Homo sapiens: one gene and its partners. The protein of the gene in region 3 interacts with the protein of the main gene of each other region in a pairwise test. Each region holds a gene or a part of one and is shown on either strand. Other genes may lie near its edges. The genes, in order: CHCHD3, ZMAT2, SPAG5 and NEBL.

Region 1 (7,022 bases), on a different chromosome or scaffold from region 3:
GAGGGAGGATCACTTGAGCCCAGGAGGTCAAGGCTGCAATGAGCCATGATCATGCCACTGTGCTCCAGCTTGGGCAACAGAGCAAGACCCTATCTAGAAAAAAAAAAAAAAAGTGTTGGAATGTAAACTTAAAATGGATGAATTTCATGGCATGTAAATTACTCTACAACAATTTACTTTAATAAACTTTAAAAAAAAAAAGCTATTATGGTAATCCAGGGGAGAACACACTTAAAAGGTATTTAGGATTTAAAATACTAACATTCACTGAGTGCTTATTATGTGCCAGGCGCTACACTAAGCTAGGCACTTCACTTATTTACTCCTTCACAGGCCTATGAGATAGATACTTTTGTATCTCTATTTTATAGGTGAAAAAACTGAAGCATAGCCGGATTAAATAACTGGCCCTGGATCAGATACTTTATCAGTAGCAGAGGAAGGATTCAAACCCAAAAAGTCTGAGTCTCAAGATCCCACTCAAGGCCAGGCATGGTGGCTCGCATCTGTAATCCCTGCACTTTAGGAGGCCGAGGTGGGCGGATCACGAGGTCAGGAGATCGAGACCATCCTGGCTAACATGGTGAAACCCCATCTCTACTAAAAATACAAAAAATTAGCTGGGCGTGGTGGCGGGCGCCTGTAGTCCCAGCTACTCAGGAGGCTGAGGCAGGAGAATGGCGTGAACCCGGGAGGCAGAGCTTGCAGTGAGATCGCGCCACAGCCTGGGCAACAGAGTGAGACTCCGTCTCAAAAAAAAAAAAAAAAGATCCCACTCAAACATCCCTCAGCATCACTACCCAGTATCTGAGTAGATGTGGGAGTAAAGCAGAAGTCATCAAGGAAGACCCCAGGATTTCCATTTCAAGTAACTGAGTGATCCTCCTCCTGTATCAAGGGTCTCCTTCCCATTTCCACTTCCTGAACTCACCACTCTCTGGCTTTTACCCTCAGTGCAACAGTGAACATTCTCTGGTAGAAGTCACCAATGACCAAATAAATAACTTTTGATATTTATGTAAATAAATATTTTATATTTATAAAATGCCTTATTTATATGGCTTCCCTTTAGCATCTAACACCTCTGGCCACTCCCGTCTTCTGGAAAGCCCTCCCTTGGCTTTTCTGACATCCTGCTGTCCTGGTTCTCCTAGGACTCTGGCCACATTTTATCTCTTTTGCAGCTTCCCCTCTCCTGCCTGCACTTCAATGCTGAAGGGCCCTTCTCATTCTATGTGCCCTTGTACTGGCACTCTCATCCAATCTCTTGATTTCTAACTGTTGTTGATAAACTAATAAATTCCATTAATAAATGCATTCACTCGAGCTTAAGACCTATCTCTCAGAAGCCCGGTCTCCACACTGAAGTGCCTAATGAACACCTTCCTTCTGGCAAACCAGAAGCACCTCACACCCAAAGTGTCCAAAATTGATCTCACGTTTGCCGCATATCTCCTCTTTCTCCTGCCTTCCTTACCTCATTAATGACACCACCAACACCCAGCTTCCTAAATTCAAACATAGGGCTTGTTCTTAACTCTTCTTTCTCTCTCATTCTTAGCTCTGACTTCATCAATCCCTAAATATTTAATGAATTCCTCTCTTCTCTCATCCCATTTCTCCTGCCCTAATTCCTGTACCATCCGCTTAAAATGCAAATGTGATAATGGTAACTCCCTACTTCAAATTCTTCAATAGCTACTGTCTGTTTACAGAAAAATTCAAATTCTTTGTACAGCATTCAAGACTTCATCATTTGGTGATGGCCTAACTCTCCAACCTCAAATTCTACAGTTTTTTTCCTTAATATTACATATCCTGTTCTACGTCCATCTCCTTGCCTTTACACACGCCTACATTGCCCTCTCTCCTGTACCATTGGGAGGGAGTCACCTTTCAAGACGCAGTCTAAACATCCAAGCCTTCACTGACCAAAACAGTTGTCCACTCCATTCCAACCCTGCCTACCTAAAGCTACCATTCCTTGTGCCTGCTGTTCCTTTCTCAAACTTCCAATACAGTCTCAATGAAAGAACAGGAATTAGCCTTTCCACATTCACCTTTCTGCCTTTCCACTAGATTGCAAGCTCCTATATATTAAGTCATTCATTCAACAAATGTCTCCCAGGCCAGGCACTAATCAAGGCCCTGTGATACATCAGTGAACTAAATAGTCTATACCTCAACTGTTACTTGTATCTCAGGGCCCAAACCAGAATGGAAATAAGATGGAAAAGGGAAAGGCTACAGATCAAATGCTGTGTGTGCTCTTTGAAGGAAAAAACTACGACTCCCTTCTTGGAAGACAAGAAGACTTTCTATTTGAAAATGCCAGAGCCAGCTGCATCCTTCTAACAACTGACAGCCACTGGGAATGTTGCTGAAACCCATCTGAGAAACTGAGAAACTGAGACACATCCTAGAAAAATCCCCGTAAGACTGACTCAATTTATACTTGAGAAAAAAAAGAGACCCTGAGTAATATTCAGTTACTGGCAGCATCAAGACCAGAAGCAGTAATTCCCCAATCTCTAGTCCAATGCTCTACTTTTAATAACACACCCCTTCAATCCCATGCATGTAATAAAAATATCACTTCCTCTTAAAGAGGAAAAAATAAGCTTACATTTTTAGAATCTTAAAGCTATTTTAACTGATATATAATATATATAAATCTCAAAAATCAAGTGTTAGCTATAAGCTTTCATCTGAAAAGTTACTATTTTCATCTGAAAAAAATGAAAATAATGTTTACCCCAGAGATTCTGTGGAGGGATTTTAGTGTTTTGCACCATAAACTACAATTGGCTACACAAATATTTGGTAAAGCTATTACCCATATAGCTCCAACCACAGGGACTTTTTAATTCATTTTGGTTCATTTTTATCAACTGGGTCTGAGCTTGTACTGACTCGTTCTCTGTAAGGTGCATGAGGACCAGGCCTGCAGCTATTGCAAGCAGCAGCTGCCTAAGTCCTGGTATGGGTATAGAAGGTGCTTATTTTTCTCTATCTATGCTCTCTAGGTAGTAGGAGTAGAATGTCTCTTTCAACCTAATCACTAATTTCTTGTTAACTTTTTTTTCTTTTTGAGGCCTCTCTGATGTCCCAAGTTGCTACTTAATGTCAAATTCTCACATCAATTCAAAACATTTCCCAGTGGGATGTTTGGTTATAGTTCAGTAAACTTGTAAGCATGCACCAAAGGAGTATATACTAAACCTATTGAAGGCTTGATAAACATATTGTACGGCTGCCTTATTGAGACTCCACCTTTCTCTTGTTCTTACAATCATTCAACAACTGTATCCTTAGGCCCTTCCAAAGCAGCACCCATGGCCATCTACTGTTGCACCTCTGCCAACTCCAAGCACTATTACCCTATTCCCAGTCTGCTCATAGCGACGTAGATATGAGGTAATAGTTTTGTTGTGTTATCATCTGTATCCAAAGTTAATGCTCTCTGAGCTGACCTTCCCATTGCAGTAGTAAGTTCAGACCTGCACACTCACCTGATCTCCTCTGTGAACAGGGGTACTCACTCGTGAAGCAGCTGACAAGCTTTAGAGATGCTGGCCAGGATTATACACGCAATCTGTAGCTGCAGAACAACTCATCTTTCTGATAAAAAATGACCCAAAATGGGGGTCGATAGTACAACACAAGCTTCTGCGATGGCAGCCTCTGTGTAAGAAGTATCTTGCGGTCAGGTGTGGTGGCTCACGCCTATAATCCCAGCACTTTGGGAGGCCAAGGCAGGCAGATCATGAGGTCAGAAGATCAAGGCCATCCTGGCTAACACGGTGAAACCCCATCTCTACTAAAAATATAAAAAATTAGCCAGGTATGGTGGTGGGTGCCTGTAGTCCCAGCTACTTGGGAAGCTGAAGTAGGAAAATCGCTTGAACCCAGAAGGTGGAGGTTGCAATGAGCCGAGATCGCACCACTGCACTCCAGCATGGGCAAGAGAATGAGATTCTATCTCAAAAAAAAAAAAAAAAAAAAAAAAAGTATCTTCTTCAGGAAACATATCTTTTCCTGAACCGGGCACTTGTTTAAGCAAAGCCTTTTCCTGTACAATGACCTATACCTATTATACTTGCTTTCCAGACATCTCTGGAATCTGCATCAAGGCAAATACCAAGGGCAATTTACAGAAATTATTTGTAGCAAAGAATAGTGAAATAATCCCCACACACATTGATACTGGGAATTACACCCTGAGGTCCACAGACTGAGTAGTCCGTGGGTCAATTACTCAACTGTATGCAAAACTGTCTGCTTATTGCATGGTTCTGGCCAGAATCCACAGCTTACAGATCCACAGTGCTCTATGAACTAAAAGAGCCACCATTCTAATATAAGGGGCAATCAAAAGAAGCAGGTCTGCCGATATTCAGCCCACTGAACTTGACTGTCCACCCTATTCTCTATTGCTCCTAAAGACAAATTTAAGCAAACAGAGCTTGCCAAGTTTAAATTTGTGGTACTCACCACACCAATGTGCTCCACAGAGGGGGAAAGGCCATGTGTCATCTCCTACAGTCTTCCCACTCATCTCTTCCTACCCACCTTGTTTGGTCTTATCCAAAATCCGTGCCAGAAACACTACCCACCAATCCAAAAGAAAGAATTTTCTCAGAAACAGGAGACTGGGTGAGTTGGACAAAGAGAAAGTATTTCTACTCCCAGGTAACAGAGTAAAAAAAGAGGAATTCTTCAGTGGCCCTTCTAAGAGGTAAAGTTATGAGCCACATGAGACAAATAAATCAGCCTCCTGCCTCCATTAGTTTATCTTATCTTCTTCCAGATGTGTCCTAGCAAATTGATTCAAGAACTCAGACCCATTTTTTCTCTCTTGATCCTCCTTCCACTTAGCATAGGTCATTTTCTGTGTGAGTATTAGTTTGCTTCACAATTACCTTTTTAAGACATAGGCTCCAAAAACTGCCATTATTATTTGGGAGAAATTACTCCCAAATAGTTAGTTAAGAGAAAGGGGGAGAGGGAACCCATATATATGTTGATAGATATATATGAAATATGTAATGCTTAGCTTATGTCTGTGTTTCTTTACATTTGTCATTAGTAGAAACCATTATCCCTACCTTTATAAAATCCTAGATAACTTAAGATGGTAGCCAAAAACTTCATAGAATCTAAAGCTGAAAGAAACTAATCATCCACTACTTAACTAAATTTGCACAACATTCCTCAACACTCCCAAGGGCTGACCGAATTTGTAGTCTCTGATAACATACTCTCTTCAGAATCCTCAGTAATACCGCATATTAAGTAATCTCTTCATTTACGGTCTCTCAACTGCCAACACTTCCCAAAGCATGAGTTACGTTCCATATTAAGTATCCATACTGCCATAACTGGCTCCTGTGAATTTCAGCTTGCAACTTTAAAGCCCAGCTGCGGACATTCGTTTATGTCTGGAAAGCATGATAAATATATCTTTGAAAATGATACTCATTGAAGTTGACATTTGCTCCAGAAGAGTTCACTCACAGCTTTGATGTTTCAGATAAACTTGCGAAAGATAGAGTTGTAAGCACACTTTCCAAGCAGGCACAGCAGGTGCTCACAAAAATCCTATCAACCACATGTAATATGAGTAATGAAAATGCTTGGTCTTTCCTCTCTAGGAATTTATTTTAGCCTTGAGAAGAGGGCAAGGCAAAAGAGTGACCTCTCATCCAATCCATAAGAGTAGTTTCAGATTCAAAGTTGGAATCAGGTGTAAAAATATAGGTTACTTTTACAGAAGAGGGAAGAAAAGCTATCAGTTGCTAAGGATAAAGGGAAAAAACAAGACCCTACAATACCATGAAAAATAACACCTGGTAGGTGAGAAGAAATTTTAAACTTAAAATTTGAAGTAGGTCCTTTCATTGCTATTAAGGACCTCAACAATATAGAGAAACACAATCTATTAATAAATTCAGCCAGGTGTGGAGGCTCACACCTGTAATCCCAGCACTTTGGGAGGCTGAGGTGGGTAGATCACTTGAGGTCAGGAGTTTGAGACCAGCCTGGCCAACATGGTGAAACCCCCCTCTACTAAACATACAAAAAAGTTAGCAGGGCATGGTGGCACAGGCCTATAATCCTGGCTACTCAGGAGGCTGAAGCAGGAGAATCACTTGAACCTGGGAGGCAGAGGTTGCAGCAAGCTGAGATCATGCCACTGCCCTCCAGCCTGGGTGACAGAGCAAGACTCGTCTCAAATAAATAAATAAATATTCAGCATAGTTACCAAAAGCCTTATGTTGTTCACTAAATGTTATTCTTTATACATTAAGATAAATGATGACTGAGCCTGGTGGAGCGGCACATGCCCGTAGTCCCAGAGGCTGGGGCAGGAGGATAGCTTGAGCCCAGGAGTTGAGACCAGCTTGGGCAACACAGGGAGACTCCAACTCAAAAAAACCTCATAATTGCCAACATATTTATATTAAGGGAATGAACCCAAGTCATTATATGAAAAAAATAAAGGAAGATGAAATTATAGATGCTCCTTGGTTTACAACGGATTTTGCTGAAGGTAATGCCAGAAGCTGAGTTTACTGAACGCTTGTCACTTCCACACCACTGTCAAAAAATCCTAAGTCGAACCATCCTAACAGGAGACCGTCTGTACTATCTTTAACAGTGTAACAGAACACAGAATTAGCTTTCCAGCAGTGACTGCCTCTGTTGAATTAGTAAGCTTGGTAAACTTTCATTTCTTACAACCAATGACATAAATGCTAGACAACTGGTCAAAGTTGGAACGTTTTCTTCAGCCAAGCTGAACTAACCTAACTGCAGTTCAAAACTGAAGTTTGGTGCCTCATCGGCACCATGTTCTAACAAACTAAGCTAAAAACAATGGCTTATGGACATACTGAGAATGCGGTTTCTTATCCTTCCCCATGTCTCAGAAGGGAACAAAGTGACTATTTAAAGCCAAGAAAAATATAAAGAAATAAAAACCATCTACAACAGACCTAGACAAAAAAACACCCTCAATT
Region 2 (8,000 bases), on a different chromosome or scaffold from region 3:
TAGCCTGACCAACACGGAGAAACCCCGTCTCTACTAAAAATACAAAAAAATCAGGTGGTGCATGCCTGTAATCCCAGCTACTTGGGAGGCTGAGGCAGGAGAATCGCTTGAACCCAGGAGGCGAGGCTGTGGTGAGCCGAGATCATACCATTGCATTTCATCCTGGGCAAGAAGAGTGAAACTCTGTCTCAGAAAAAAAAAAAAAAAGAAAAGAAAAAAGAAAAAGAAAAAAGAAAGGTCTATGGGGCAAAGAACTTAGGCTTCCAAACCACAGGCATGTGAGAGAGCTTGGAAGCAGATCTTCCAGCCCCACTTAAGATTCATATGAATGCAGACCTACCTTGCCAACTCCTTGATTGCAGCTTCATGAAGACCCTGAGCCAGAACCACCTAGGTAAGCCACTCCCAGATTCCTTACCCAAAGAAACTGTGAGTGGTGTAGTTTATGCTGCTAAGCTTTAGGTTAATTTGTTAATTTACATAACAATAGATAACTAATACAGACAGGAATGGACAACAGTGGGTTTACTAAGCAGCTCAGAGAAGTGTCACTCATTGCTATCTGTGTTGCTCTCCTGCCAGAAAACCTAACTGGACAGAGAAGCAGTGGGGGGCAAAAGGGTGACAAGCTCTTGTAGGACCCTTCTTCCTATAGGTTATAGTCTTGGAAGAAGGTGTACAATCAGGCATCCATAACAACTACAGCCTTTGCAGCTAGTCTGGAACCTCAAACCCCTCTTCTTCACCATTAACAACTCCTAGGCTCTATTCTAGCTCCACCTAATTTCTCTCCTAGAAATCTCCTCAGTAGTCCTTTCCTTCATTTCTTCTTCTGACAGATCAAATAATCCCTTTTAAAATATTAATAGTAAATCAGAATTGATAACAAGTACAATGGCAATAAAAAATTTAAAAACTATATTGAGTAGTAGCTGTAGTGCTCATAGTATGATTTTTGTTTGTTTTGGTTTTTTTAATTGAGACAGGGTCTCACTGTGTTACCCAGGCTGGTCTTGAATTCCTGGGCTCAAGCAATCCTCCTGCCTTGGCCTCCCAAAGTGCTGGGAATACAGGCGTGAGCCACTGTGCCCAGCCAATGCTAATAACATGAAGAAACCCACTGAGTGACCACTCCTAGAGACACTATCATGTCAACTTGAGACCTTGGGAGACACAGAAAAACAAATATAAAGATAGAATTACAGGCAAGAAGGACGTAATCCTGGGGCCAAGGACCTTCCTTAACACTTCCTAAAACCAAAATAGGTGGCTTATTAGATGCATTCTTGGCTGCAGAGGAAAAATGATAAGCAACTCACCCTCCCATCTCAGATTGAGGGGTTGTCTTGGTAATGACAATTGTCTTCCCAAGCTTGGATTCCAAGTCCACCTTGTAGTCCCTATGCCGTAAAAGCTCTCGCTTGACAGGCTGCACTGGTTTTCCTGAAACATAATGGGGAAGGAAGTCCCTTCAATATTATAGTTCCTCAACCAGAAAGGAAAAAAAATGCATGAAATCCAAAATTCAGGTCTTACTCATTTCAAAATCATTCCTGAAAGGACACAACAGACACTTAAAGTAGCAGCTGGGGAGAATCTCAACACAGGAAGAAATCATAAGCAATCCTCAACTCTACAGCTTTTCTCCACTTTAAAGCCAGCAAATCTAAAAACAGTATGTTTTATATTCATTGATTAACTGAATTGTGGGGGAGAATTTCTGAAGAATTACTAGAAGCAACTTTTTCAAAACGGGAGCAAGGACATTCAAGAATGCTTTCAGGCAGATACCCTAGGCATAACGGAAAGGAACCTTCTGAGAGCTGGGCAAATTTATAAAAGGGGACCAACATCTAGGAAATGCCTGTTACATGTCAAGCACTATTTATTTTACATGTTACATAAAAAATGAAAGAGTTAGTGAGTGCAAGGTGGCCTGGAGGTAAAGGGAAAGAAGAATGTACACGTTTGAAACAGATGACAAAATAAAACATTTCTTTATGCAATCTCTTAAACAGGAGAGAAGCACCAACTCCCTGATGTACAAGGCACAGAGAAACAGCACTACTAAGCTCTAGCTGAAACAATCACAGATCCTGCAAAGTTCCCCGGCTTTTCTCAGACTATATGGGAGGGTCTTGATTGGGCCAGGAATGTTCTCTCCCTTAAGAAATTTCAAGGGAAAGAGGGGGGTCACTGATAGCGGTAATGCACAGCAGCAAAATACTCTACTTAACTTCTCTGTCACTACTAAGGATGCCGTTATCTTCTCTGTACTTCAGGAAAGCATTAAACGAGCCAAGCAAAGGGTGGGCAAGGAAGCAGAGTGAAATAGAGCTGAAGAGCATCTCAAAACTACTTACTTCATCCCACCTCCTCGCTCTCATTTTGTAAATGCAGAAACCTAGGCCCAGGGAAGCAGCACTCTGCCAGAGCTTACACCGCGTGGGAAGGCAGCGCACTTCAACTCCCACCCGCTCTCCATCATCGCATCGCCTCTGTGATACCCTTAGCCCTTGATGTAGTTAGCACCCACCATCTTTCTTTTCTCTCTCTTCCGTGAGCCTCTTCTCGGCGAGTTTCTCATATTCATCTTTGTCCCACTTTCGGCGAAAGTCCAAGTTTTTTGTCTGTGGGGAGGAAAAAGCGTCAAGATCCGTCGCCGTGTCTGGGCCCCTAGAGAAGCAGGGAACCGCGCCCTCGCGGTCCAGGTGTCTACAGGACGTTTTGAAAGCAAAGCCTCTTTGGACTGTACGAGAAGACTGAGGTAGCCTCAAGACCCCAACCCGAGAAACCTCCGCGATTCTACTGACCCTCTGCCAAGGCCTATTACTGGGGAGTTCTTGAACCTGAACCCTGGGATCTCGAGGAGATATCGGGAAGCCAGTCGGGTGCAGGAGTTTGTCTCTATTCAGGTCTGAAAAACCATTCCCCACCCCGCAAAACCTCCTCCTCAGACACAACACCTACCCCGCTGCCCGACGCCATCTTCACAGCGAAGTGAATGGCGAGCTGAAAAACGCCGTAAAAAGCGGCTTGGAGCCGTAAGGCAAGATAGCCCTCCAATAAGCTTGGAGTCTTGTGTTCTAAACGAGCTAAGGACTGGAGGGTTTCTAAAACAGGCTTGTTGGCCCCGCCTCTGCTCCAAGGAGACAGCGCAGGCGCAAGAGGAGTATGAAGCAACACGGAAGTAAGGGCGCTTGCAATTGTTTTTTGCCTTGGATTTCAAAACAAGCATTAAAGGGTCAAGATTTAGTTCAACTATTTTACAAACAAGGAAACTGAGGTTCGCAAAACAGTGGTCTCTGATCTAGTCTAGCAACTTTGCGTCCACTGCCAAGAATTTCTAAACCTTTTTTAAGGCCGAAGCGCCATTAGGGGGTCTAGATGCCTCTCATTCACCTGCATGCACTAGGGATATGACCCTAAACTACACTGAAACGTTTGCAACAGAGGCACCCTTCCCGACGCACATATAAAAAGCATGTTTTGCACTTGGGCTCTTTTCCTTGAAGCAATGCTACCACCCTTTGGTTCACTTATTTTTCCATCATCTGGGGAACTTTATAGTAGAACATAATTTAATCAGCATAATTGGATTTGGAAAGGCCAGTCATCAACAACACTCTAGAGTGAAGCACTGTGGCATACCGGCTCACTATATGTTGATTTTTAGCAACAAAACTACCTCTTGGCCGGGCACAGTGGCTCATGCCTGTAATCCCAGCACTTTGGGAGGCTGAGGTGGGTGGATTATGAGGTCAGGAGTTTGAGACCAGCCTGGCCAAGATGGTGAAACCCTGTCTCTACTAAAAATACAAAAATTAGCTGGCTACTCGGGAGGCTGAAGCAGGAGAATCTCTTGAACCTGAGAGGCGGAGGTTGCAGTGAGCCGAGATCACGCCACTGCACTCTAGCCTGGGTGACAGAGCAAGACTCCGTCTAAAAACAAACAAACAAAAAAACTACCTCTTGAGGAGACAGGGAAAGAGGGAGAAACTGTGGCTGCTCATCACTGAATACAGAAGCATCATCCCAGGGAGGTTACTTCTACCTCACAGAATTCTCCAATGTACACTCAAGCATTTTCTATGGTCTATGCAAACAAAGCCCTTGATAACAATAACAAATTACCCAAACTACTACACTTAATATTTTATTTAACATGTTATCCAACCACTTCTAAAACAGCCTCCATGGCACGGTATGGAATAGAGCAGTGATTCTGGCACAGGAAATGGTCTCCAAAATCTCAAAATATCAGATCTCTACCTTGTCAAGTCATCTATTAAGTTCAATGTTCAAGATTATCAAGCATACAGCCCCACTCTTCTACTGTAAGCAATGGATGGGCTAGAGAGATGTCAAATCAACATGGGTACTGCCATGCCCTTAGGATAGCATCTGTCCTCAAAGCTGAAAGCAGCCATTGCCCCTCTTTGCTGTCTTCCAAAAACTCCCCAGACAGGCCAATGGCTGATTGTGGACAAATTCACCAGAATCTGGTTCCGTAGCTACAGTAGAAGGCTAAGTATCTGGTTTCTGATCTCAATGGTTCAGAATCCTGAGCCTGAGGTGACTCTCCCAGAGCCTTGCTCACAGCAACAATCTCACTACCTCTTGACAACGTTCCGTGGCACTTCAAATTTGCCTCTGCAGCTAGAGCATGTCTCTTTCACATCCAGCCATCTGCACCCATGCAGAATAGCTGCTCACACTAGCCCAGGAGTCCTCAGGGTCTTCTACAGTTCTGCACCCAGGAAGAATGGAGGAGGCAGAAGGTACTTGTCACCCTTCCTGGCTAGTTGTTGTGAAGTCCATCACTCAATTCCAGAGGAATTCAGTTCTAGAGGAAACCTTTTCTACAAAGAGCAGCAGATGGGAATCAGGCAAGGATCAAGACTCAGACAGTCGCTTCTGAATTTCAGCCACAAAATTTTCCCGTTTAATGGCCACCTGAAACATAAGAGAATCCTCATGTGATAAACTAGAAAGTGATACTAACTCCTTAGCCACTGTTTTTCCAGATTTGTTTTACTCTGCATCTTCTCCCATTACTTATACAACCAGAAAGGAGTAGTGTGGGTTGACCTGAAGAATGTATACCCTCAAGATGAAAGGGATTCAAACACCTGATCTATGTCTATTATGTTGATTAGTCTCAAAATACCCATTCGGATTTCATTTGTCTTTCTTCTGGCCACCCAGTCAATACTCACAGGCAGCAATGGTCATCTTGAGTGAGTGTTTGTTCATCTCTACCACTATTAACCATGAAGATAATTTCTCAGCCAGAAGATGCATATTTCTTACAGAATCTGGGAAAGGCAGAAATACTTCGTCCCTTCTATTTCTGCTGCCGCCACTCACCTCCTCTCTGCTGGCCACTGAACGGATCTTGATGACCCCTTCTTTCAGTTCTTGCTCACCAATAATGACCACCAGTGGAATGCCTGTGCTCTCACAATAGTGCAGCTGGGTTAATAGTTTGGGGTTGTTCTTGTATAGCATCTCTGCCTGAAAAGGATCAAGACAGAGTAAGGGACTTAGAAGTGAACACAGCAACAAACCTCAGGAACATGGATATCCAAGAAAGCCAGAGATAAGTGGCTAGTCCGCCTACCCTAAAAAGCCAATCTAGTAGCCAGTAGTAGCTAGCAGACTAAAAAGGTTTTGAGTTCCACCCCAGACATAAGATAGATATAGCCCTGGGTCCTAAATTCCACACATACCCAGATGGCTCAGATATCAGCTCCACCATACCTTGATTCCAGAATCCCAAAGCTCTGCAATAAGCTTCAACCGTTCTTGGAGAAAGTTCTTCTGTGGTGTGGCCACAAACACTTGAGTCTCTGTAGTCCGCACCTTCTCACCTTTGGTCTAATAAGAGAGAAGAAAGTAAAACTAATAAAAACCTCCTTTCCACCAGCAATTCCAAAAATCAAGACAAAAAGAATCATCAGAAAACCACTCCAACTACACCTCCAGAAACAGGAGGGTTTTTAGGTCTCCAGCCCCACCTCACACCTATCTAGGACCTACCTTCATCCTCTGCTCCACAATGTAGAAGATTCGCTCAACCCCAATGCTGAGTCCCACACATGGCACCTTGTGGCCCTTGGGGTCAAACATGCCCACCAGCCCATCATAGCGCCCACCAGCAGCCACACTGCCCACATTCAGGGGCTCCTCCCCAGCCTGAGTTGGGGTCTGCAGCAGCACTGCTTCATAGATCACTCCTGTATAGTAGTCTAGGCCCCGAGCCAGGCTGAGGTCAAAGGAGATCTGTGGGGACAAGATTACAGTCAGTCCCAAACTAGACTCGGGACCCTGAGAGCCCTAGAGCTCAGCAGGAGGTCCATTTGCAATTCAGCTTACCTTATCAGCAATTCCAAATAAAGTCAGGTATTCAAATAGCAGCTTTAGGTCTCCCAGGCCCTCCAGGGCCTGCTTGTTCTGGGATAGTCTGGGATCCTGAAACATTTGCTCTACTAGGGATACCCCACCTGGAGAGAAATAAAGTCTCTGCTGTTCACTCACATGTGTTTCATTCAAAATTATCCCTAATGTGCTCTAGCTAGTCTTCCTCATTTTCTTTAAAAAAAAAAAAAAAAAAAAAAGATCCCAGTCTCACATGACAAGACCCTCCTCCTTTGCCTCTAGCTTTGCCATCTGAAGACACAAAGTCGTTACAATAAGTAAAAGAGAAATTAAATTCAGGACAGGCCCTGGAGCTTAGCATATCTACAGAAAAGAGTTGTTTCAGAGGTAGAATTTGAGCACATGTCACCTTCAGCCTGGTTCTATCACAGCTCTGAAAACCCTGGTTCTTACCATGACACTGGACATAGTCCCCAATTCGATCAGCCACCTCAGGAGCCAGGCCTTTCTTCACCACCATCTCATGTCTCACATCTTTCCAAGCCATCTGCATAAACACCCAAACATTAGCCCAGCCCCAAGATCTTTCTTTCTCAAACTGAAAAAGGACAACTCAACTTCCATTCAGTATATACATCACAAGTAGCTAACTGTATACTCAGCAAAGTCAGAGACAGCTTAAGAAATCCAGTCACAATCCCCACTGTATAGCATGACTCAGATCTTCCTTCAGAGTATGCCTCCTTACCTTCCACCCCAAAATAGCCCACTTCCAGCCACAATCTCCTTATTTTTCACTAGTGGTATGGATTTGAGGGCAGGGCAGAAGCTAGATAGGGTCTACTGAAGTATGTCTTCTTTGTTACCTTGTCTAGTTTATCTATGGAGGAGCAGATGGCACGGAACTTGCTTTCAGGAACACCACAGACAGCAAACATCCCATCCACAATCCGCCGGTCATTTACCTGAGAACTCAATGTCAGTGACCCAAGTGCTTGTCAATGCCCTTCCACTCAAAACAATGGCAGTACCTACTTTCCTGACACACAAAAAGGATGGAAATTTCACAGGAAGAGTACAGACATATAGGAAATACAACAGCTTTACTAGGAAAGTCCTACAGTTGCAGGCTTAAGGGTTGGAGTCACCCAAGTTTGGGACTTGCATAAACAGTATTAGGCCAAATCCAGACTTCTCCCACAGTTCTCAGCCCTGGCCTCACCTTAATGAGAAAGTCTCCCAACTGCAATCCACTTAGGATTTCACACATGATCTTCAAACACTCTGCATCGGGGATCATAGGGTCAAACTGACCAGCAATGTCAAAATCCTACAGCAAAGAAAAAGATGGGAAAAAACATCCATTATCCAGCCAGTTTCAAGGTTGTGGCCCCTAGAACTATCAAACTGTGCTGCTCCCATCAGGTCACTTACACACTGGCAGAACTCCCTATAACGGCCTTGGACTATGGTTGGGCTCTCTCGCCGCCACACCTTTCCAACATGATAACGTTTCATCTTCTTCACCTTATTCATGGCCAGATAACGAGCAAAGGGAACCTCACATAAATGGGTTAAGGAAGAGGGATACTGCATCCAAAGATTAGGCCCAGTATACA
Region 3 (7,022 bases):
CTAATATTTCCTGCAAAAACTAAGTACCCTTAAGTTTAAATTGTTGCAAAGGCTGTAATGTCCAGCATATTACCAATATTGACAATTTAAAATAATTTTTTTTTTTTTTGAGACAGAGTCTTACTCTATCCTCCAGGCTGGAGTGCAGTGGCGCGATCTTGGCTCACTGCAACCTCTGCCTCCCGGGTTCAAGCGATTCTCATGCCTCAGCCTCCCAAGTAGCTGGAATTACAGGTGCCCTCCACCACACCCAGCTAATTTTTGTATTTTTAGTAAAGACGGGGTTTCGCCATGTTGGCCAGGCTGGTCTTGAACTCCTGACCTCAGGTGATCCTCCCGCCTCGGCCTCCCAAAGTGTTGGGATTACAGGTATGAGCCACCATGCCCAGCCTAAAATAAAATTATTAGATTACTCTTAAATATATCCAGTGGCATAAATACTACATACACCAAAATGATGAGATACCTAGTTGCTATCTTTTAAAAATACAAGAAAAAGCTCTTCTTAGCAGTCAGAAATTTTATTATGTCATCCCTTTTTCTCTTTGAACATATATTTTTTATTTTTCTCAGAATTTCAGCCTAATGTAATATATTTTTATGCTTTAAAGTATGTTATTAGCTGGGCACAGTGGCTCACACCTGTAATCCCAGTGCTTTGGGAGGCAAAGGCTAGCAGATCACTTGAGCCCAGGGGTTTGAGAACAGCCTGGCCAACATAGCAAAACCCCATCTCTACTAAAAATACAAAAAAATTAGGTAGGTGTGGTGGCATACACCTACAGTCCTAGCTACCCAGGAGGCTGAGGTGGGAGGATCACCTGAGCCAAGGAAGCTGAGGCTTCAGTGAGCCCTGATCGCAACATGGTACTCTAGCCTGGGTGACAGACCAAGAAACTATCTCAAAAAATAAAAATAAAATCTGTTATTAACCATCATCTCTGCAACAACAATGAAAGTTCATCTAAATTTAAATTAAAATTTCCTTTAAATTCCTTTGACCGGAAGGCTTTAAAGTGAAAAAGCTTTCTTTAGGATAGAGAAATCTTTTAATCAGTTGTATATTAGTCACTGTAATATAATTTCTAATAAAATAAACATGCTCGGCAAAATTTAATTGGGAATCACCTATTAATGAAATCGATGGAGATTCCTTCCCCTTATTAGTTCGTATATCTGTGGATTACTATAATTCCAGCAATAAGAAATAGTTCAGCAACAATTCGTGACTCTGTTTTTTGAGGCAGGGTCTGGCTCTGTTGCCCAGGCTGGAGTGCAGTGTCAAGATCTCAGTTCACTGCAGCCTTGAACTCCTAGCCTCAAGTGATCCTCCACCTCAGCCTTCCAAGTAGCTGGGACTACAGGCACACACCACCACACCCAGCTAATTTTTGTATTTTTTTGTAGAGATGAGGTTTCACCATACTTCTCAGGCTGGTCTTGAACTCCTGAGCTCAAGCGATCCTCCCACCTCACCCTCCCAAAGTACTGAGATTACAGGGGTGAGCCACTATGCCAGCTGACTCCTTTCCATTCTGACAGATGTAAACACTGAGAAATCTTCTTCACATAAACAACAGGGGCCAGGCGCAGTGGCTCACGCCTGTAATCCCAGCACTTTGGGAGGCTGAGGCAGGTGGATCATGAGGGCAGGAGTTCGAGACCAGCCTGGCCAACATAGTGAAACCCTGTCTCTACTAAAAATACAAAAATTAGCCGGGTGGGGTGGCATGCGCTTGTAGTCCCAGCTACTCAGGAGGCTGAGGCAGGAGAATCGCTTGAACCTGGGAGGCAGAGGTTGCAGTGAGCCGAGACCAGGCCATTGCACTCCAGCCTGGGTGACAGAGTGAGACTCCGTCTCAAAAAAAAAAAAAAAAAAAAAAAAACTAAAAGTATAATTGGATTGCTTGTAACACAAAGGATAAATGCTTGAGGGGACAGATACAGATACTCCATTTTCCATTTTCCATGATGTGATTATTGACCATCACATGCCTATATCAAAACATCTCATGGACTCCATGAATATATTTACCTAACTCTGTAACCACAAAAATTAAAAATTATTTTAAAAAATGTTTTAGGCTTATTCATAATTTTTCTTAAAATATTAAATATAGTCTACCAATGCAAAAAACGAAGAAAAAGAATACTTGTGGAAGATGATGATCTAAAAACCAATTCCTTTAAAAGTTTCCTTGCTTGCACTCCTTTGGAAAGTTCTGATGTACCCCAGGGGTAGAGTGACTACCCACAGCTTTAAGGGGATTTTCCAGATCCTCAGCTTTTTTGTTTTAAGAGACAGGGTTTCACTGTCTTGCCCATGATCATAGCTCACTGCAGCCTTAGCCTCCTGGGCTCAAATGATCCTCCTGCCTCAGCCTCCTGAGTAGTGAGGCATGCAAAACCATATCCAGCTGATTTTTTAAAAATCTTTTGTAGGGATGGGATCTCGCTGTGTTGCCCAAGCTGGTTTCAAATGCCTGGCCTCAAGCAGTCCTCCCACCTTGGCCTCCCAAAGCAGTGGGATTACAGGCATCAGCCATTGTGACTGCCCAGATTCTCAGCTTTTGCAAATGTTCTAAGTATAAGCCTGTGATAGGAGTCCCCTTTGCCCTCTGGCAGCTTCTCAGCTTAAATTCCAAGGATCCCCACTGGGATCCCTCAAGCTTTGAGAGGAACCTTCTTACCCCACTGTGAGATGTGTCAGTCTGTGTGCTACTGTCCTGGGTTTCTGGGTGAGGGACAGCCAGCTGGCTCTTCCAGTCCCGAAGCTGGCGGGAGAGAACCTCCAGAATGACAAGAGAGCTCAGCAGGTTATCTTCCAAGTCATGTCGAGACAAGGCAGTCAGATCTGGAGGCCGGCTGCAGCAGAAAGAGAAGAACATGACGAAAAGAAAAGGAGGGGAAGGGATGGGAGGGGAAGGTCCAGGGTAATGGAACTCACGAGGTGCAAGGACATAGGGGCGCTTACCCACACAGGAGCTGCTCTGTCTCAGAAGTACTGTGCTTGGTGCCAACCAGGCCTGTCTGGGATGTGTTTGTACTCTTTTCCTGTGGTGCTGAAGGAGTAAACCAAGTCCCCACCGAGCAAGTAGAGAAAGGGGTAGTGCCAATTGCAGCATCCCGAAGCATCGAGGGAAGGGATAAGCTTTGGCGGAGATTTTCCAGCATGACGGAGGTATTTACACCTTTTTCCAGCCAGGCCAGTGGGGACATCCAAGACTCTGTATCAGAGCCAAGAATCCTACCAACATCTTCTACTGCTGGGCCTGGAGCTTCTTGGGATTCCATTTCTACTAGATTTGGTGTCAGGCATGTGGACAGAATATCTTCCACACTTGAGACAAGTGCTTGATCTTCTGTTTCAGACTCCTTAGGATGTGTGGGAAACCTCATTTCTCTTTCCTCCATAGCTCCATGCTCTACAATTTCCTCCTCTGGGTCCACATGATTGACACGGAAATCTGCTGCCAAGGCAGTTGAAGGGGAAAGCCAGAGAACAGAGGAAGGCAAGAAGGCGTTACTTTCAGAAGGTACTAAGTCCTCACGCACAGCCTCAGTTCTACTGCTCAGGCTTTCCTTGGAGCAATGTAGTTGTTCAGAACAGGGATTTGGTGGAGACTCCTCTAAGAGATGGGACGGAGATTCCTGAAAGATAGGTTTCTCAGATACAGCAGCAACTTCTGAAAACCTGTCTCCCATGCAGGGTGCCACCTCCTCTCTCACCAGATCGTCTGTTCTCAAAGGTCCATTTAAAGATATGCTGTTTGTCTCTGCCATGGTATCTAAACGGGCCTCAAATATCATGTCTTGTTGCTGCCCCAGTGGAGATGGTACAAGGACGATGGTTTTAACCATATAATTGCCCAGTGGGTCTACTGCTTCCTCAGACGTTTTAGGAGTAGAGCTAATTTGGGGAATTGGATCTAGAGGCTGCTCATCTGATTCATGCTGACAAGTTTCTAGCCACTTTGAGGAATGACTGAAATGTTCTGAAGATAAGTCTGTCCTCTTGTTATTTACAAAATCCACTGGAGATGAGTTGTTGCTGCCTTCCTGCCAAAGGAAACAAAAGTAGTTGTCTAAGGCAGTCAATTCAGTTCCCGACATACAATTACAGGTGCAAGATAGTGCACTCAAAAAAGAAAAGAATTCTTACTACCTCTGCTTAGGTAAGAACTTGGCTAATCTTTGTTGCTCATATAGAGACCCAATAGTAGGGAAAGAAAAGCTGCTAAGCCATTTTGGGTCCTTCCAAGTGAACCAGCCTACATTATAAACAGGCTGAGAATATAGATCCATATCGTGGGCAGATGGTAGCTTGAAAGTGACCCCACTCATCTCCATTCTGAACTCTAACGCACTTCTAGATGAACAGATAGGAGGGGTCCATAGGGTGTGAGTGAAGGCTTAAGCTCTGTCAGAATCTAGAGTTGGTACAAGTTCTTCTCCCTCTCGGCTGGGCGCAGTGGCTCACGCCTGTAATCTCAGCATTTGGGAGGCCACAAGCAGGTGGATCGCTTGAGTTCAAACCTCATCTCTACTAAAAATACAAACATTAGCCGGGCATGGTGGTGCTGATGTGTGCCTGTAGTCCCAGCTACTCAGGAAGCTGAGGTGGGAGGATCACTGAAGCTCAGGGGGCAGAGGTTGCAGTGAGCCAAAATCGTGCCACTGCACTCCAGCCTGGGTGACAGAGCAAAACCCTGTCTCAAAAAAAAATAAATAAATAAATAAAAAAGGTAGACCCTAACAAAACAGAGCTGCTGGAAGACACAGATGATAATCTGAACAACAACAAAAAAAACGAGTACTTAAGCTTTAACTACAACATAAATACACACACAAAGACATTTTAGAAATAATAAATATTATTTTAAATAAAAAATGTCAGTAAAATGAATTGAAAGAGTAAATTATTAGAGTTGAAACTAGAATTACTGGCCTGGACAAGTGGAAGAAATATCTTAAAGCAAAGATAAAAATATAAAGAAATGTAAATCTGAAGAAAAAGCTAAGAGAATTAGAAGATAAACCCAGGATACCTAACAGTTAAATAAAAGAAATTCCAGAAGAGAACATATATACATGAGGCGCTGATTAACAAATATTAGAAGAAAACTACCCTAATGAAAGACCTGAGTTTGCACATTAAAATGGCTCACCAGTTTCTAAGCAGGACTGACTAGAAAAGATACATGCTAGACACATAATTATAAAATTTCTGTGCTACAATGAAGAAAAAACTATTCTGGAAGCTTTAGATAGAAAGTCCAATTATTTATTAAAAAAATAATCAAACAGACCGGGCGCAGTGGCTCACGCCTGTAATCCCAGCACTTTGGGAGGCTGAGGCGGGCGGATCACGAGGTCAGGAGATCGAGACCATCCTGGCTAACACGATGAAACCCCGTCTCTACTAAAAATACAAAAAATTAGCTGGCTGTGGTGGCGGGCACCTGTAGTCCCAGCTATTTGGGAGGCTGAGGCAGGAGAATGGCGTGAACCCGGGAGGTGGAGCTTGCAGTGAGCCAAGATCGTGACACTGCACTCCAGCCTGGGCAACAGAGCGAGACTCCGTCTCAAAAAATAATAATAATAATAATCAAACATATGAAATTTCTCATTTATATTAGTGGATGAAACAAAACCAAGGTTAGGTTAAAAAGGGCTTCTGATATTCTGGTACTGTCCTACTTACTGACCTGGGTATTAGTTACATGGATGTGTACTTTATAGTAATTTGTTATGCTGTTATGTTTTATTGTAATTTCATGTATCTTACTTTAATTTTGAAATTATTAAAAGGTATGATGGCTCACACCTGTAGTCCCAGCTATTCAGGAGGCTGAGGTGGGAGGACTGCTAGAGCTCAGGAGTTCAAGGTTGCAATAAGCCAAGATCACACCACTGCACTCTAGCCTGGGTAACAGAGCAAGACCCTGTCTCAAAAAAAAAAATAAAAAAGACAGGGCATGGTGGCTTACACCTGTAATCCCAGCACTTTGGGAGGCTGAGGCGGTCAGATCACAAGGTCAGGAGTTCGAGTGCAGCTGGGCCAACATGGTGAAACCCCATCTCTACTCAAAATACAAAAATTAGCTGGGCATGGTGGCGGGTGCCTGTAGTCCCAGCTACTCGGGAGGCTGAGGCAGGAGAATCGCTTGAATCTGGGAAGCAGAGGTTGCAGTGAGCCAAGATCGCGGCACTGCACTCCAATCTGGGCGATACAACAAGACTCCTTCTCAAAAAAAAAAAAAAAAAGACAATATAAAGATGAGTGTGTGTGTGTGTGTGTGCATATATACAAAATAGACACACATAAAGAGATGTATGAAAGAACTGTCAAATATGACATTTATCTAAGATACCAGAAATATTTCTTCCTTATACATTTATATATTCAAATGCTTCAAACAATTAATATCTATTAATAATCAAAAATTTACAAAACAGGCCAGGTGCAGTGGCCCACGCCTGTAATCCCAGCACTTTGGGAGGCCAAGGAGGGTGGATCACTTGAGGTCAAGAGTTTGAGACCAGCCTGGCCAATGTGGTGAAACCCCGCCTCTACTAAAAATACAAAAAATTAGCCAGGCATGGTGGCACGCGCCTGTAATCCCAGCTACTGGGGAGGCTGAAGCAGGAGAATTGCTTGAACCCGGGAAGCAGAGGTTGCAGTGAGCCGAGATCACACCACTGCACTCTAGCCTGGATGAAGGAGTGAGATCCTGTCTCAAAAAAAAAAAATTAGGCCGGGCGCGGTGGCTCACGCCCGTAATCCCAGCACTTTGGGAGGCTGAGGCAGGCAGATCACGAGGTCAGGAGTTCAAGACCAGCCTGACCCCCAACATGGTGAAACCCTGTCTCTACTAAAAATACAAAAATTACCTGGGCGTAGTGATACATGCCTGTAATCCCAGCTACTCAGGAGGCTGAGGCAAGAGAATTGCATGAACCTGGGAGGCGGAGGTTGCAGTGACCCTAGATGGCACCACTGCACTCCAGCCTGGGTGACA
Region 4 (7,348 bases), on a different chromosome or scaffold from region 3:
TATTTTATAATAAGAAATGTTGAATTCATTTTTAAAGTTAAAAGAAAAGCAGTTTATCTCTGTACTTTTTTCCCCCCACTCAGAACTGAATTTGGATCTGTTTTAATTGTTTATTATAAATTTTTATTTTTAAATCATGTATCACCATGTTGAGGAAAAGTACATGTTCTATCATTATGAAAAAAAGGAGAAAAAAGTGAAATAAGTGTGAAACAGTCAAAAACCAAGAAAGTCTTGTCATAGGCGACCTCAAGGAAGGTGAAGACAGTTGTGCACTGCACGACTCCAGATGGTGGCACAGATACGTTCCCTTGGCCACGGCTGTGTCTCTGAGACTTGAATTACCCACCTGACAGTTGCTAAGGAAATACATTTGCTTACGTGTAAACATCAAGCTATCAAAAGATCAGAAGACTTCTGAATTATAAATAAGCAAGTGAGCTCTTATCTTTAAGCTGTCTAGTTGCAGAAGGCCCTTCTTGACTTTAAAAGGATATTAATGGCACAGAGAATGAGAAGACCTTTTCATGCCAAATGTTTTTCACATCACTGTGTACCTTTATTGGTGGTTGAAAAAAAGCTTGTGTTTGTGAGGGGCTCCACTATTTTTAAGGTGCTTTTTCTTTTTATTTTTTTTAAGAGGGAGTCTCGCTCTGTCACCCAGGCTGGAGTGCAGTGGCGCGATCTTGGCTCACTGCAACCTCCGCCTCCCGGGTCAAGTGATTCTCCTGCCTCGGCCTCCTGAGTAGCTGAGATTACAGGTGTGTGCCACCATGCCCGGCTAATTTTTTTCTTTTTTCTTTTTTTTTCGGGATGGAGTCTCACTCTGTCACCTAGGCTGGAGTGCAGTGGCAGGATCTTGGCTCACTGCAACCTACGCCTCCCAAGTTCAAGCGATTCTTCTGTCTCAGCCTCCCTAGTAGCTGGGATTACAGGCGTAATCCCATCTACTGCCATCACACTCGGCTAATTTTTTTTTTTTTTTTGTATTTTAGTAGAGATGGGGTTTCACCATGTTGCCTAGGCTGGTCTCGAACTCCTGAGCTCAAGCAATCCACCTGCCTTGGCCTCCCGAAGTGCTAGGATTACAGGCGTGAACCACCGCACCCAGCCCATGCCCGGCTAATTTTTCTATTTTTACTAGAGACGGGGTTTGACCATGTTGGTCAGGCTGGTCTCGAACTCCTGACCTTGTGATCTGCCTGCCTCAGCCTCCCAAAGTGCTGGGATTACAGGCGTGTGCCACTGCGCACCCAGCCAGTGCTTTCTTTTTATTAACTTCTGTCAACTCAGTTTTTCTGTTTAACTATGAAGAATTAGAGGTAGTGAGGGGTTGAATAATTTGCCCTAGAGGACATGGCAGAGCCAGACCTGGACTTTGAGAGTTTAGCCATAAGTGATGTCTCTTGGTCTCATTCTGTATCAAGGCATGCGTAGAGTACTAAAGTAGAAAAGTAAACAACATAAAAGAAGTGCCCAATAAGTAAAAGCTATGAGCAGCTACAGAGATTTTGCCTTTTGGAGCAACCCAAGGTGAAAATATCTATTAAAATACATTAAGCTTGGTTTTTGGAAAAGTCGATAGGGGATTTTGAAACATGATAGCTGTCCATGAGGAACACTTTCTTCATATTCTCCATGTCATATTTTAGAGCTACTGACAAGAAAACTTTGCTGTGATGAAGTGCAGGGCTTAACACTTTTTTAGAGAAAACTTTGCATGAATTTTATATTATAGGTGAGAGGAAAAAAGATGTATTCAATCAAAAGTAATGGTGTCTCTAGCTTGCCAAACGATCCATTAAAGACTTCATCCAGCAAGTGTTGAGTGATGAGTATTTTATTTCCAATTCTATCTTAGTATGAAGAATATTTTATTCACCATTCTATCTCTAACACCAAGCACAGTGCCTGGCATAACAACATTTATTTGTTGAACAAATGAACACAGGTCTCTAGTTAGGTTCTGATCCTAGTGCTTCATTGAATGGCTTTGTAAATGAGACACATAATTTTTCATAGCCTTCATTTTGTCATCTGTGAAAGAGAGGGCTTTAGGTGTATTGATTTCTTAAGGATCCCTTTGGCTTGAAATTCTGATTCTAGAATCTCAAATGGAAAATTTGTGTTCACATTGCACGTGGTGTTTGGTTTTTGTTTTCAAAAGTTTGTGCATTAAATCTCAACAGCTTATTTTCTTGCAGCACAGTGAAGAGTCCCTAAGAACATATTACGTGATGGGAAATGAGAAATAACTGCACTGCAAGCCTGATGAAGGTAATTCACCTTGGGGAATAGGTGTCACCCTGAGTAACACCAGTACTGTCTCCTCAAATATGAGCCAAAAGGTGTGTCTCAGGCAGTTTTGGCAAGATTTTCTCCCTACACTCCTAGAAATTTGCAAGACAAGTTTACAGAAATTACTCCTCCCTATTTCCAAATAAAGATAATGTAATAGATCTATAGAATATTAGAATAGTCTTCTGGCCAGCAGAGGACTTGAGGGAAATAATTGGAATGCACACATTCTTTCCTTTTACGGAACAAATAAAATATACAAGGAATGTCCTTGTGGAATCCACTACACTGGGCCAGCATGATATGGCTGTAATCTTAGAGTTGTGGTTTCCAAGTTCAGCATGCTTGAGGCAATTTCTTTTTGGTATTTTGTTGGTGAACAGGATATGTGATACCATTAATTTAGCCTGTATCAAAAACTAGTTCAAGACCAACAGCTCCTTCTAGAACACAACATTTTAGGAGAATAGAGCAATGTTTCCCTAAGCAGTCGGTCATATTTCACAGAGGAGTGTTAGTTTTCTGGGGTAGTGGGTATGATTAAAAAAAAGATAGGTAGATAGGTAGGTAGGTAGATTAGATTAAATTGGATTAGATTTGATGAGATAAACAGGTTTGTGTTCAGGGGAACACGAGGTTAAGCAAGCCTAAGCAGGTTTTTTGGTTGAAGGTCTTCTCAGAACTTCTAGTATGTCAATATGCCTTGTAGATCTCTAAGTGGCAGGGACAGAGACTGGGGTACAGATTTCCCAAACATATTTGTTTAAGAAACCTGCTTTTTTCCCCCAGAATCTTTTGTGGAACTTTTGCCTCATGGAACACAATTTCAGAAATAATTTATACGTGATGACTGTGTAGAATGTTTTTCTTGTCAGGATTTTCAGTTTAGGTAAGGCCAAGGCATTTTTTTTTTACAGTACATTGAAAACTAGATATGATATCAAGAGAAAAAATTATGCTTGGCTACTTAGAATGACATACTATTTTTAATAAATTTGTATTTTGTATCATCAGTATTACTATTCAGTGTAGGGTATTTTTTATGCCCAATGCTAATGTGCTATGACTTGGTAAAATTAATTTACCCTAGGATTTACATAACCAGATTAATAAATTGTGAGTTGTAGGGAGTCTTGGAATTGCCTGAATTGACATTAAAATATTTGTTTTGAGAAATTTTTTTTTAACCTTGGTTTTACGTAACCAAGGACATACACTACATTATAAATATTGTGATGGTTTATTTTTCCAAACTTTTCTGAATGTGGGGTGCCCATTGAGTAATAATGCAAATCACCAATGACTTTGTAAAAATTGACATGATGAGTAGAACTGCAGAATTCAAAGATGATGATGATGATTTTTGAAACGATGTTTCCAGAATTGTTAAATTATGTATCAACATATGTTAACTGCAACTTCTCATGTTTAATGATGTTTACAATTAATACAATACCATACTCGCCAGTATAATACTAACAGTCATAATTAACTCAGAATAGATTCTTTGAAGTGGTTCAAAGGGCTTTTCATAATAAATAAGTAGCCTCTAATCAGCTAATATAAAGTGGGTATTTTTTAGGATGTGAGAAGTACTGGTATGTCTGATAAAACATATAATTTAGGTTGACAAAATGAGTTTGAATGATCCAGATTCACTACCCCAAGTCAGAAGGAAGTCTGACATTCCAGTGAAAGCTTTATTTAGACAGAGACAAGGAATCTTTGAGATAACAGGCTTTGGACTGTGCTATCTTGAGTGTTAGAGCTGAGTAGTTTTCCCAGAATCTCTAAGTCCTTTTTATGCTCTTTTATGAATGAATAGAATTAGTAAAAGATAAATAAATTTTTTCTTTTGGATTTCTTAACCAGTGGAAAAAATGTTGACTTTAAAAGTTCATAAAATCAAATTTTGCTTAAGAATATGTTATTTCCACTTGTGAGGCCAGCCTGGTAGACCTCTGGGATCCTTTTCTGTTCACTCACACACCACTGAGATAAGGAGTGAAGTGTGGGCTAAATAGGGCTGAGGCTTGGGCAAGGGCATTTCTGCCAGAGCACCAGAGACGTCAGCATCTCAAGGGCACTGTGGTATGGAAAAGGACGCCACATGAGTAAATTTTAAAAATATAAATATTTTAAAGGGTAAAAATGAGGGTCCCTGTATTTGAGGATATAAAAGATGAAACTGAAGAAGAAAAGATAGGGGAAGAAGAAAATGAAGAAGACCAGGTGAGTGAGAAAACACATACTCAGACCAGCGTTTGTTCCTCTAAATTGACAATGAGAAAAATGTTCTTTCTGTTCTTTTCTTTTTTTTCAAATAGGTCTTCTATAAGCCTGTTATTGAAGACTTAAGCATGGAATTGGCCAGAAAATGCACGGAACTCATTAGCGATGTAAGTGGCTGGAGTAATTTTTGTCTTATTTTGCATTGCACCTGTGGTATTATTATGTTATAGAGTCATAGAGCTGTGGGGGAAACCCTGAAATCACCTTTTAAAACACAGTCACTTTCCAGATCATGGAACAAAGTCCTGAAATTTTCAGTGATTTCCCCAAGGTCACCTATACAGAGAATTTCTGCTAGAGCAAGTCTCCTCATTCTTAATCCAGAATCCTGTCCCTTATGAGTTTTGCTGTCACGCTGGCATGAAATCATAAGGCATTGAATTGCAGTATTTATTCCATTTGAGAACCCCCAAAGATTTTAAAATGAATATAATGATGTAATTTGTCTTGGGAGGCCCTCTATCTAAATGAATAGTCATTTTTTTAACATTTTGGGGCCTTCTGAACAATCTAATGAATGGACTTGTCTTCCAGAACAGGAAAATGCATATATATATATATATATATATATATATATATATGCATATAATATTTATTTACAATTCAGGATTTGTTGATTACTGACCTGCTTGCTAAGAACCCTGATATTAGTGCAAGGATATTAGTGCAAGGGGTATTTTTGTTGTGACATTTTTTAGTAACTGGGATTGGTTGATATTACACTTTAAGGGAATCCCAGAATTATTGAATGATTGAACATATAATTTTATGTTAAATATGTAAGCTAGAATTCAAGAAGTACAAGGAAAAATGTTGCTCACCAGGGATGAGAATTTAGATGATCCTCATTAGCGGTTCTAAGAGGATTGCTGGTCCAGAGAAAGGGTAACTCCTGTAAAGTGAATATGTGCCTGTGTCTTCATTTAGAGAGATGAGCACAATACTGGTTGTTTCTGTTGTTGATAATAAGCAAAATGATCAGAATGTTTTGCACGTTTGTTTTCTAACGGAAGTCAGTCCTGGGCAGGAGGGTAGTGGTCTGGCACATCCTCCAAAGTCAACCTGCCTGGGTTGACTCCCCAGTAACCTTGGGAAGGTTATGGAACCTGGCTTGGCTCCATCCCTCAGCTGTAACATTTATAATAAGATTAAATAATGGTAATGCATATAAATGCTGAATAAACTATCTGGAACATTGTGAGTACTCCATAAATGTTAGCTGTTATTAACTACTCTGTCTGTTACTTCCTTTTACATCCATCCAATCACAATTTAGATATGACTGGCTCTTTCTGACAAACCAGAAGGCAAGCACAAAGGATGCTGGTGGAAATCATACCCTTTCCCATATACTTGACATGTGATGTAATTACCCTTTAAATTAAGTATTTCTTTGTGCTATTACTTAATAGTCATTAGCTATTGTATGTGAAAGTTCTCTGTAAATTGCAGTAATAATAAGTGACAATGACAACAACAACAACAATAACACTATTGGCAACAGTTAAGATTTAGTGACTATTGTGTGCCAGGGATTGCAGCTTGCGAGGTAGGCGCTAGGCTTTTTCTCATTTCTGAAGCGAGGAGATAGAGGCACAGAGAGGTTCAGTACCTTGCCTGGGTCACACAGTTAAGCAGAGGCAGTAATAGTTGAACACAGAGGCCTCCCTCTTTACACTGCCAAGTTATCTCTCCCTGTAGATTTCCATGAAATGTTGTTCTTCGCCTTATTATTATTATGTTACTATTATTAGTAGTAATGCTACCAACTAAAACCCTGAGTTCCTAACCTCTTCCAGCTTTGATATATTTTTATTGAAGTGCAATTATAGCTGAGCTAACTTGTGTTACATAAACCATCAGGACTAAAGTGGTAACTGTAGTTAGTAGGTGATTTGGTTGGAGTTGTTTTGGATAAGATTGTCTATCAGTGACTTTAAAACCAACATGTTGTGAGGGGTGGTGGCCTTTATCATTATGCAAAAGCTAAATCCATACATTTCACACCCACGTAGGTAAAATGAAACAGATAGGCATACTTTCTGTTTATTACAGATTTTTGTGGCATGGTAGAATGTACTACTTAAATTTAGGACATGATTATTCTGCCTTAATTTTTTTTTTTTTTTTTTTTTTTAGACAGAGTCTCGCTCTATCACCCAGGCTGGAGGGCAGTGGCACGATCTCGGCTCACTGCAAGCTCCGCCTCCTGGGTTCACGCCATTCTCCTGCCTCAGCCACCCGAGTAGCCGGGACCACAGGCGCCTGCCACTAAGCCCGGCTAATTTTTTTGTATTTTTTTTTTTTTTTTTTTAGTAGAGACGGGGTTTCACCGTGTTAGTTAGGATGGACTCGATCTCCAGACCTCGTGATCTGCCCGCCTCGGCCTCCCAAAGTGCTGGGATTACAGGCGTGAGCCACCATGCCCGGCCTATTCTGGCTTAATTTATATCTGTATACACATTCACATTTTGCTTCCGAATAGAATTCTATACTTGCTAAGATACTTATTTAATTTTTAGATTTTTTTCCTTTTTCTCTTCTTTTCTTTCTTCCTTTTTTTCCTTCCTTCCTTCTTCTTTTTTATTTTTCTGGACAGAGTCTCACTCTGTTGCCCAGGCTGGAGTTCTGTCATGTGACTGCAGCTCACTGCAGTCTCAATTTCCTGGGCTCAAGTGATTCTCCAGCCTTAGCCTTCCAAGTGGCTAGGACTACAGGTGTGTGCTACCATGCCTGGCTAATTTTCATTTTCTTTTTC

The links.
Region 1: the proteins of SPAG5 (region 3) and CHCHD3 interact in binary tests that used the Homo sapiens proteins (3 or more experiments, as listed by UniProt).
Region 2: the proteins of SPAG5 (region 3) and ZMAT2 interact in binary tests that used the Homo sapiens proteins (3 or more experiments, as listed by UniProt).
Region 4: the proteins of SPAG5 (region 3) and NEBL interact in binary tests that used the Homo sapiens proteins (3 or more experiments, as listed by UniProt).

What each region holds. Positions count from the first base shown.
Region 1 is NC_000007.14:133,072,074-133,079,095, forward strand, and holds part of CHCHD3 (MICOS complex subunit MIC19), read right to left. Parts: intron 1-7,022. UniProt on the Homo sapiens protein: Component of the MICOS complex, a large protein complex of the mitochondrial inner membrane that plays crucial roles in the maintenance of crista junctions, inner membrane architecture, and formation of contact sites to the outer membrane.
Region 2 is NC_000005.10:140,695,449-140,703,448, reverse strand, and holds the start of ZMAT2 (zinc finger matrin-type protein 2), read right to left. Parts: upstream 3,003-8,000; 5' UTR 2,989-3,002; coding exon 2,971-2,988; intron 2,631-2,970; coding exon 2,537-2,630; intron 1,444-2,536; coding exon 1,320-1,443; intron 1-1,319. Other genes in the region: HARS2 (histidine--tRNA ligase, mitochondrial isoform 4 precursor), read right to left, coding at 4,897-4,956, 5,371-5,517, 5,764-5,880, 6,043-6,285, 6,379-6,506, 6,835-6,928, 7,248-7,346, 7,604-7,711 and 1 more. UniProt on the Homo sapiens protein: Involved in pre-mRNA splicing as a component of the spliceosome.
Region 3 is NC_000017.11:28,589,008-28,596,029, forward strand, and holds part of SPAG5 (sperm-associated antigen 5), read right to left. Parts: intron 4,060-7,022; coding exon 2,975-4,059; intron 2,866-2,974; coding exon 2,691-2,865; intron 1-2,690. UniProt on the Homo sapiens protein: Essential component of the mitotic spindle required for normal chromosome segregation and progression into anaphase. Required for chromosome alignment, normal timing of sister chromatid segregation, and maintenance of spindle pole architecture.
Region 4 is NC_000010.11:20,894,307-20,901,654, reverse strand, and holds the start of NEBL (nebulette), read left to right. Parts: upstream 1-4,343; 5' UTR 4,344-4,449; coding exon 4,450-4,530; intron 4,531-4,625; coding exon 4,626-4,697; intron 4,698-7,348. UniProt on the Homo sapiens protein: Binds to actin and plays an important role in the assembly of the Z-disk. May functionally link sarcomeric actin to the desmin intermediate filaments in the heart muscle sarcomeres.